Homo sapiens: one gene and its partner. The protein of the gene in region 1 interacts with the protein of each later gene in a pairwise test. Each region holds a gene or a part of one and is shown on either strand. Other genes may lie near its edges.

Evidence for each region. Proteins that work in one complex are often made in the same cells at the same time.
Region 2: the proteins of SYT6 (region 1) and TSGA10 interact in binary tests that used the Homo sapiens proteins (3 or more experiments, as listed by UniProt).

The regions. Positions count from the first base shown.
Region 1 is NC_000001.11:114,136,870-114,140,369, reverse strand, and holds part of SYT6 (synaptotagmin-6), read left to right. Parts: intron 1-406; coding exon 407-755; intron 756-2,316; coding exon 2,317-2,875; intron 2,876-3,500.
Region 2 is NC_000002.12:99,071,443-99,074,942, forward strand, and holds part of TSGA10 (testis-specific gene 10 protein), read right to left. Parts: intron 1,632-3,500; coding exon 1,576-1,631; intron 433-1,575; coding exon 264-432; intron 1-263. UniProt on the Homo sapiens protein: Plays a role in spermatogenesis. When overexpressed, prevents nuclear localization of HIF1A.

The DNA.
Region 1 (3,500 bases):
GAAATTCAAACAGCATCTCAACATGAATCCTTCACAAATTTGCACATTTGCTTAGGCTGCTATTTAAATTATTTTCATTTCCCTGTGCACGTGCCAATAGCCAGTAGAGAGGACAGCCCAGGTGCTCCCCAAGCTGGCTGGGGGGATAGGGGTGGGGGCGGGAGAGAGGATGATGCTGGAAGAATCAGATTGAGGTGAACACAAGGCTGTACATACTCCACCAAGTGGACAATCAAGAGTCAACCCTGAAACCACCTCTCCCTCTGACCTGGCAGCTTTCTCATGACCATTCTTCTCTCTTCTTCCGTCTTTGTCCCTTCCGTGTGCCCCCTCCTCCAACACCCTCACCCGCTTCTCCCCGCCTCTGTCTGTCTGTCCCTCCCTGCCTGGCTCATGCCGAGGGCAGGCACCTCTGTCAGCCTCCTCGCAGTTGTAGTTATTGTGTGTGGCGTGGCCCTGGTGGCAGTTTTTCTCTTTCTCTTTTGGAAGCTGTGCTGGATGCCCTGGAGGAACAAGGAGGCCTCCAGTCCCTCTTCTGCTAATCCCCCCTTGGAAGCCCTCCAGAGCCCCAGCTTCAGAGGCAACATGGCGGACAAGCTGAAGGACCCCAGCACCCTGGGCTTCCTGGAGGCGGCCGTGAAGATCAGCCACACGTCCCCAGATATCCCAGCTGAGGTGCAGATGTCGGTCAAGGAGCACATCATGCGTCACACCCGGCTGCAGCGGCAAACTACAGAGCCAGCGTCATCCACCAGGTGAGGAGTGGACCACTCCCTTCCCTGACCCCCACACCTCCACACTCCCTTAATACATCTATGGGATTCCAGCCTGTGGGGATCACAGACCAGAAATAATAACACATATCCTTTGATTGACAAATATGTCAGATGATGTGAGCCATGATGGGTGATCAATGAGGAGGTGGGCACCAGGAAAGACTTCATGAAAGGGAAACCTTTGAGGCGGGTTGCTGTATATGTGGTTTGCACTTGGGGTGTGTGTGGGTGTGAGGGGAATGGAATAGTGGAATAGGGGAGTGTTGGATGTTTGGAAGGAAAGACTTCAGGCAGAAGGAAGAGAACAGTAAAGGCCTAGAGATGTAAGAGTTCATGGTGTGTTTAGGGATATGTCAGTAAAGCCTGATAGCTACAGTCTGCAGTACATGGCAGATAAGGCAAGGGAATCTTAATAGTTTGAGAATCAGGATTCCTTTAAAGCCTTTCAGAGTTCCCTGCATGACAACAACTGTAAATACATACAGCATCCTTTAACTGAAAATAGCAACAAGAAAAACATAACGACAAAAACCTACCCTAAATTCAGAAGCACTTTTAAAAGATGTGGTGCAAGCATGCGTAAGGCATTGTATTTACTCAAAACTTAGGGCTCTGATGGACTCCTAGGTCCCTGCAACGGCTCTCCAGGCCCTCAGGGGACCAACAAAAGAGAACGAGGCCTGGTCTTCAGACTGGAGGCCAGGAATGAACATGCTGGGAGGTCACACTGACAGTCTGTCATATGGCCTTGGGCAAGTTCCTCACCTTCCCTTAGACTCACTTTTTCCAACTGTAAAATAAGGCTGATGACTTTTATATGGCAGTTGTGAGGAGCCAATGGAAGAATCAATGTGATTGATAAGGAGAGCTAACACATATATTGCTTATGATTATGCTTGGCTCTATTCTAAGCACTTCATATGTAATCAATTCATTTCACAGCAATCCTATGCAGCTGTTACTTTTATTATCCTCGTTTTTATGGCACAGAGAGGTTAAATAACTTTCCCAAGATCTCAGCTAGAAAGTGACAGAGCCAAAATTAACCTATGCAGGCTAACTCCAAAGCCCATGCTTTTACCACTCTGCTGCCTGCCGTATAGCAAATGCTTAACAAATGGTGATGGTGATGATGGTGATGAAGTGGGTGCCACATTGAGGATAAGAAGGGATGGTCCTTCTCTTAAGGAATCTCATGATTTAATAAGGAAACCAGAGTCATGTCTACTAGGAAGTAAACCTAGAAAGCAGGTAACAGAAAAGCAGGAAAAAGTGATTATGATAACAATGGCTAAAGTTTATTGAGCTTACTATATATCAGGCACCATTCCAACTACTTTACATATATTAAGACATGTAATGCTCACCACAACCTTGCACACAAAGTGTATGCAGAGCAAAAGTGGGGTCAAGAAGAGGAAGGAAAAGGGGGCTCAACAAGGGATAAGATGAGCCAGGGCCTCCAGGCTCGTGTTTGCCTTCATCCCCCTTCCCCTGAGCCCTGACCACACTCCCTCTGCCCCCTCCTGCCCTCTACCAGGCACACGTCCTTCAAGCGCCACCTGCCAAGGCAGATGCATGTCTCCAGTGTAGACTATGGCAATGAGCTTCCACCAGCAGCAGAGCAGCCCACCAGCATTGGCCGCATCAAGCCTGAGCTCTACAAGCAGAAGTCGGTGGATGGGGAGGATGCCAAGTCTGAGGCCACCAAGAGCTGCGGGAAGATCAACTTCAGCCTACGCTACGATTACGAGACCGAGACCCTGATTGTGCGTATCCTGAAGGCTTTTGACCTCCCTGCCAAGGACTTTTGTGGAAGCTCTGACCCTTATGTCAAGATCTACCTCCTGCCTGACCGCAAATGCAAGCTGCAGACCCGGGTGCACCGCAAGACCCTGAACCCCACCTTTGATGAGAACTTCCACTTCCCTGTGCCCTATGAGGAGCTGGCTGACCGCAAGCTGCATCTCAGTGTCTTCGACTTTGACCGCTTCTCCCGCCATGACATGATTGGCGAGGTCATCCTGGACAACCTCTTTGAGGCCTCTGACCTGTCTCGGGAAACCTCCATCTGGAAGGATATCCAATATGCCACAAGTGTAAGTACAGCCCTGTTCCTTGGCTTCTTGAGGATTTGTGGTTCTGGGTTGGGTGGGACATGTCCCCAAACCCTCACTTCCTAGAGACAAATGGGCCTTTGCCATTTGGGATGTGAAGAGGGACTCTGGAAACTGCCCAGTGGCCCAGTCTACCCTTGCACTCTGCCCCAGGTTGGGATGGCAGAGAGCAGAGTCCCCATGTAGCTAGGAAGGGAAGGGAATTTTTATCTGTGGCTTCTGGTTGCATGTTCTGGGGTGGTTCTTTCTACTGAGAGTACTGATGTGCATTAGAAACTTGGCATAGGCAATTGAAACAGGCCATATCAATCAGACTGAACTAGGCTATGCTGCAGCAGCAAACAGTCCGAGGATTTTGTGGCTTTAGACAACCAAAGTTTATGCCTTGTTCATGTTTCATGTGCTTTGCAGCTGGACTGGGGACTCTGCTCCACCTTGTTACCTGGGGACCCAAGCCAACAGAGGCTGCATTTAGACACGGGCCCCCACAGTTAAACATCAGGAGGAAGAGGAAGTGGCAAATCACGCACTGTTTATTAAAACTTCCACGCAGAAGTGACACATGTCACTTCCACTCCCATTAGAACAAGACACGCGGTAACTCCTA
Region 2 (3,500 bases), on another chromosome or scaffold:
GATTATTCAAATATTTATCCTTCAGCAAGGAAGTACTAAGCTTTAATACAAATATAGCCCTGTTCTCTCTTTTCTTTAATATTTAACCCTTTGTGTCTGAGAATTCCATTTAAAAATTATGTGGCCTATTTTGTTATTTTTTAAAAAAAAGAAAAGGCTAGTTCCAGTGTCTGAGCTCTTCTATAAAATAAAATGAGGGCTGTTCCTCACAAGAAATTCATATTTTTTTTTCTTGGAGAAAATGATTCTAGGAACAAGTGTACCTGGTTTTCTTGTTTAGCTTTAGCAAACTGTTCCTGGAGATTGTCATTGTCATGAGCCAAGATATCTCTTTCCCTGGCGATCTGGGCCAGCTCATCATTTGTCTCATCCAATTGCCGACGCATTCTGGAAACGTCTTGTTCACACACAATTAGGGCCTCAGTACACTGTCTATTCCACAAATCAAAGAGTACATAAGAAGAGACATTTTACTGAAACAGAGCAACAAATTCTCACAAGACAGAAGATGGACAGTTAGTATGAAAACATTTGAAGAGATTTTAAACACGTTTGAATTTATAGGAATAAATACTGCAAAGACAGTGCATTAGAGTTTCTCAATGTTGCCATCATTTCGCTATGAAAAGGATACAAAGTATACATAATAGTCAATGATTTGCCAAATATTTCAAAACTTCTTACATCAAGTATTAGGAAGGCTTTCATCCTACTTCTGTTATGGCTTAGTCTCCTTTACAGATTCCTCTTCCTCTGCCCACTTAAAAATTAATGCTTTTCAGGGCTCAAGCCCTAGCCTCCCAATTATTCTCACTCTAACCCTTCTCTCAGACAAACTCTATTCATATCCATGGTTCCCAACCCCATCTAGATCCAATGACTCCAAAATAATTATCTCCAGTTTTAGACCCTCTGTTATACTCCAGACTTATATTTAACTGCTTACTAGACATGTCTACAATAAGGTCCCAAAGGTTCTTCAAATTCAGAGGTAAAATCATTTTTTCTCCTCATACTTTCTTCATGTTCAGTATTTGTCCCTGGCCAGAAACTTGGCATTTTCCTGGTGTCTCTCCCTCATACAAAAGCATTTCACTCCTTCTGTCCCACAACTCCTAAACCCCAATTTATCACCACCTCTTCTGCTTAGGTATCTTTCTAACACAAAATTCTCCTCAGAATTCTTTAATGATTTCTTATTGCCCAAAGGATATAACCAATACTCATTTGTCTGTTACACAAGCCTCTGCCTGCCTATTTAGTCTCCTCCCTTCACTTCTCCCCTTACACTCTAGGTTTCAACAACACTCACCCACTTGTAGGTCAAGAGGCTTGTCAACATGATCTGTGGTTCTTTGCTATTCTTTCTACTTTAAATGCCCTTCCCTTCCCCTTATTTTACTTGGCAAACACCATCCCCTCTTTTAGTTCCTTAGACAGACTTAGGCCTCCTTTGATGAGAGAGTTAGCACCTTACACGTATCATTAAGCCCCTTGTTTCTTACTATCTTTGTACCTAACATGGTACTTGGCCCCCCAGTAAGAGCTCATATATTTGTTGCACGACTGATTTACCTTGATGCCTGTTCCATCTCAGCAATGATATTCTTCATGCCTGAAATGGTCTTTTCCTTGAAAAATAATATAAGTATTAAATAAAAAAATCTTAAGCTGTTATTTCTGTTAAAATTGAATGAACAAAAAGAAAATTTCCCTTTCCCTTTAGGTTTCCATTTGGTTTTAAAAACATGTATGTCCTATTCTTTTCCACACTTTAAAGCCTAGTATATCAATGTGAATATTTGCACTGGGTAAAAATAGATTATGTTCATTAAAGTAAAGGCTATACTTAGGTGTAATTATGAGATCAGTATATCAAATTCTTTGTCAAAAGATATTTTATGCAGTCACCCAGCAATACAAGAACCCTATAACCACCTGTTTTTGGAGGCAAACCAATGGTTTGGCATTGGAGTATTGGCATTTTATACTGGGATTTAGAACTGGTTCTCTTGCTCACATTCTTTATGTTATAAAACCCAGAGAAGCCAATCATGTATACCTAAATTTAGTTTTTAAGAATAATTTTGATTAAGTGTATTATTTATATTAGCCAGCAACAAAATCTTCAAAAAGCTGTTCCAATCCAATTACTTATAGAAGTATACTACTGATATTTAGGTGAGAGCTAATAAGAAGGTAAGCATTAGGCCTCGAGCAAAGGTAAGAGAAATAAACTATATTTTCCTTTTTCAAAGGCGTGATGAGGGAGTAGAAGTAGTGGAGTCAGTCAAGGCAGAAATGGGTTTGAATATCTTAATGCCTTTAATACCATTCCCACACCTCTTTTTAAAACTTCCATTGACCCTGAACTAGTCCAACTATAAACAGATACTTAGAGCTAACATTAGCCCTAAAAAAGTAAGAAAGTTATTTCACTAAGTAATAACTAGATTTCACCTTGCCATTTGAATTTTCAAATTTTAAGTAACTAAGTAAAAAGATTTTTAAAAACCCAAACCTATATTTTCCAACCAATTCTGTTCCTGTTTCTTTTCTTTTTTTTTTTTTTTTTTTTTTTTTTTTTGAGATGGAGTTTTGCTCTTGATGCCCCGGCTGGAGTGCGAGGGCGCGATCTCGGCTCACTGCAACCTCCGCCTCCCAGGTTCAAGCGATTCTCCTGCCTCAGCCTCCCAAGTAGCTGGGACTACAGGCATGCGCCACCATGCCCAGCTAATTTTTTGTATACTTAGTAGAGACGGGGTTTCACTATGTTGGCCAGGCTGGTCTCAAACTCCTGACTTCAAGTGATCCACCCACCTCGGCCTCCCAAAGTGCTGGGATTACAGGCGTAAGCCACTGCGCCCGGCCGTTCCTATTTCTTTAGCGTTAGTTTTACACATATTTGCGTGTGTGTGTGTGTGTGTGTGTGTGCTATCTTCCTTTATTCATGTGCTCTTCTCCAGGGTATTTTTAGCTACAGTTTCCCATTCTGCTTTCTCATGGAATGGTACAGATTCCACATCTGGCAGTAATAGATACTGGTGTGTTGTTAAAATATGCATTAAAAAAAAAGTTAAACCCCTTCAAGAAGGACAAGCCAACGAAGGAAAAACTAAAAGACAAAATACTCCATAAAATGGAATGTTTACACATTTTTGAAATATAATTTAATACATTTCTAAACAAATTCTGAAAAGCTAGTTGAACTAGTGCTTTTGAAAGTCTTTACTTGAGGCCGAATGCGGTGGCTTATGCCTGTAATCCCAGCACTTTGAGAGGGTGAGGCAGGCGGAACACGAGGTCAGGAGTTTGAGACCAGCCTGACCAACATGGTGAAACCCCATCTCTACTGAAAATACAAAAATTAGCCGGGTGCAGTGGTGGGCGCCTATAATCCCAGCTACTCAGGAGACTGAGGCAGGGAATCACTTGAACTCGGGTGGCGAGGGTTGCAGTGGGCTGAGATTGTGTCACTGCACTCCAACCTGGGTGACAGA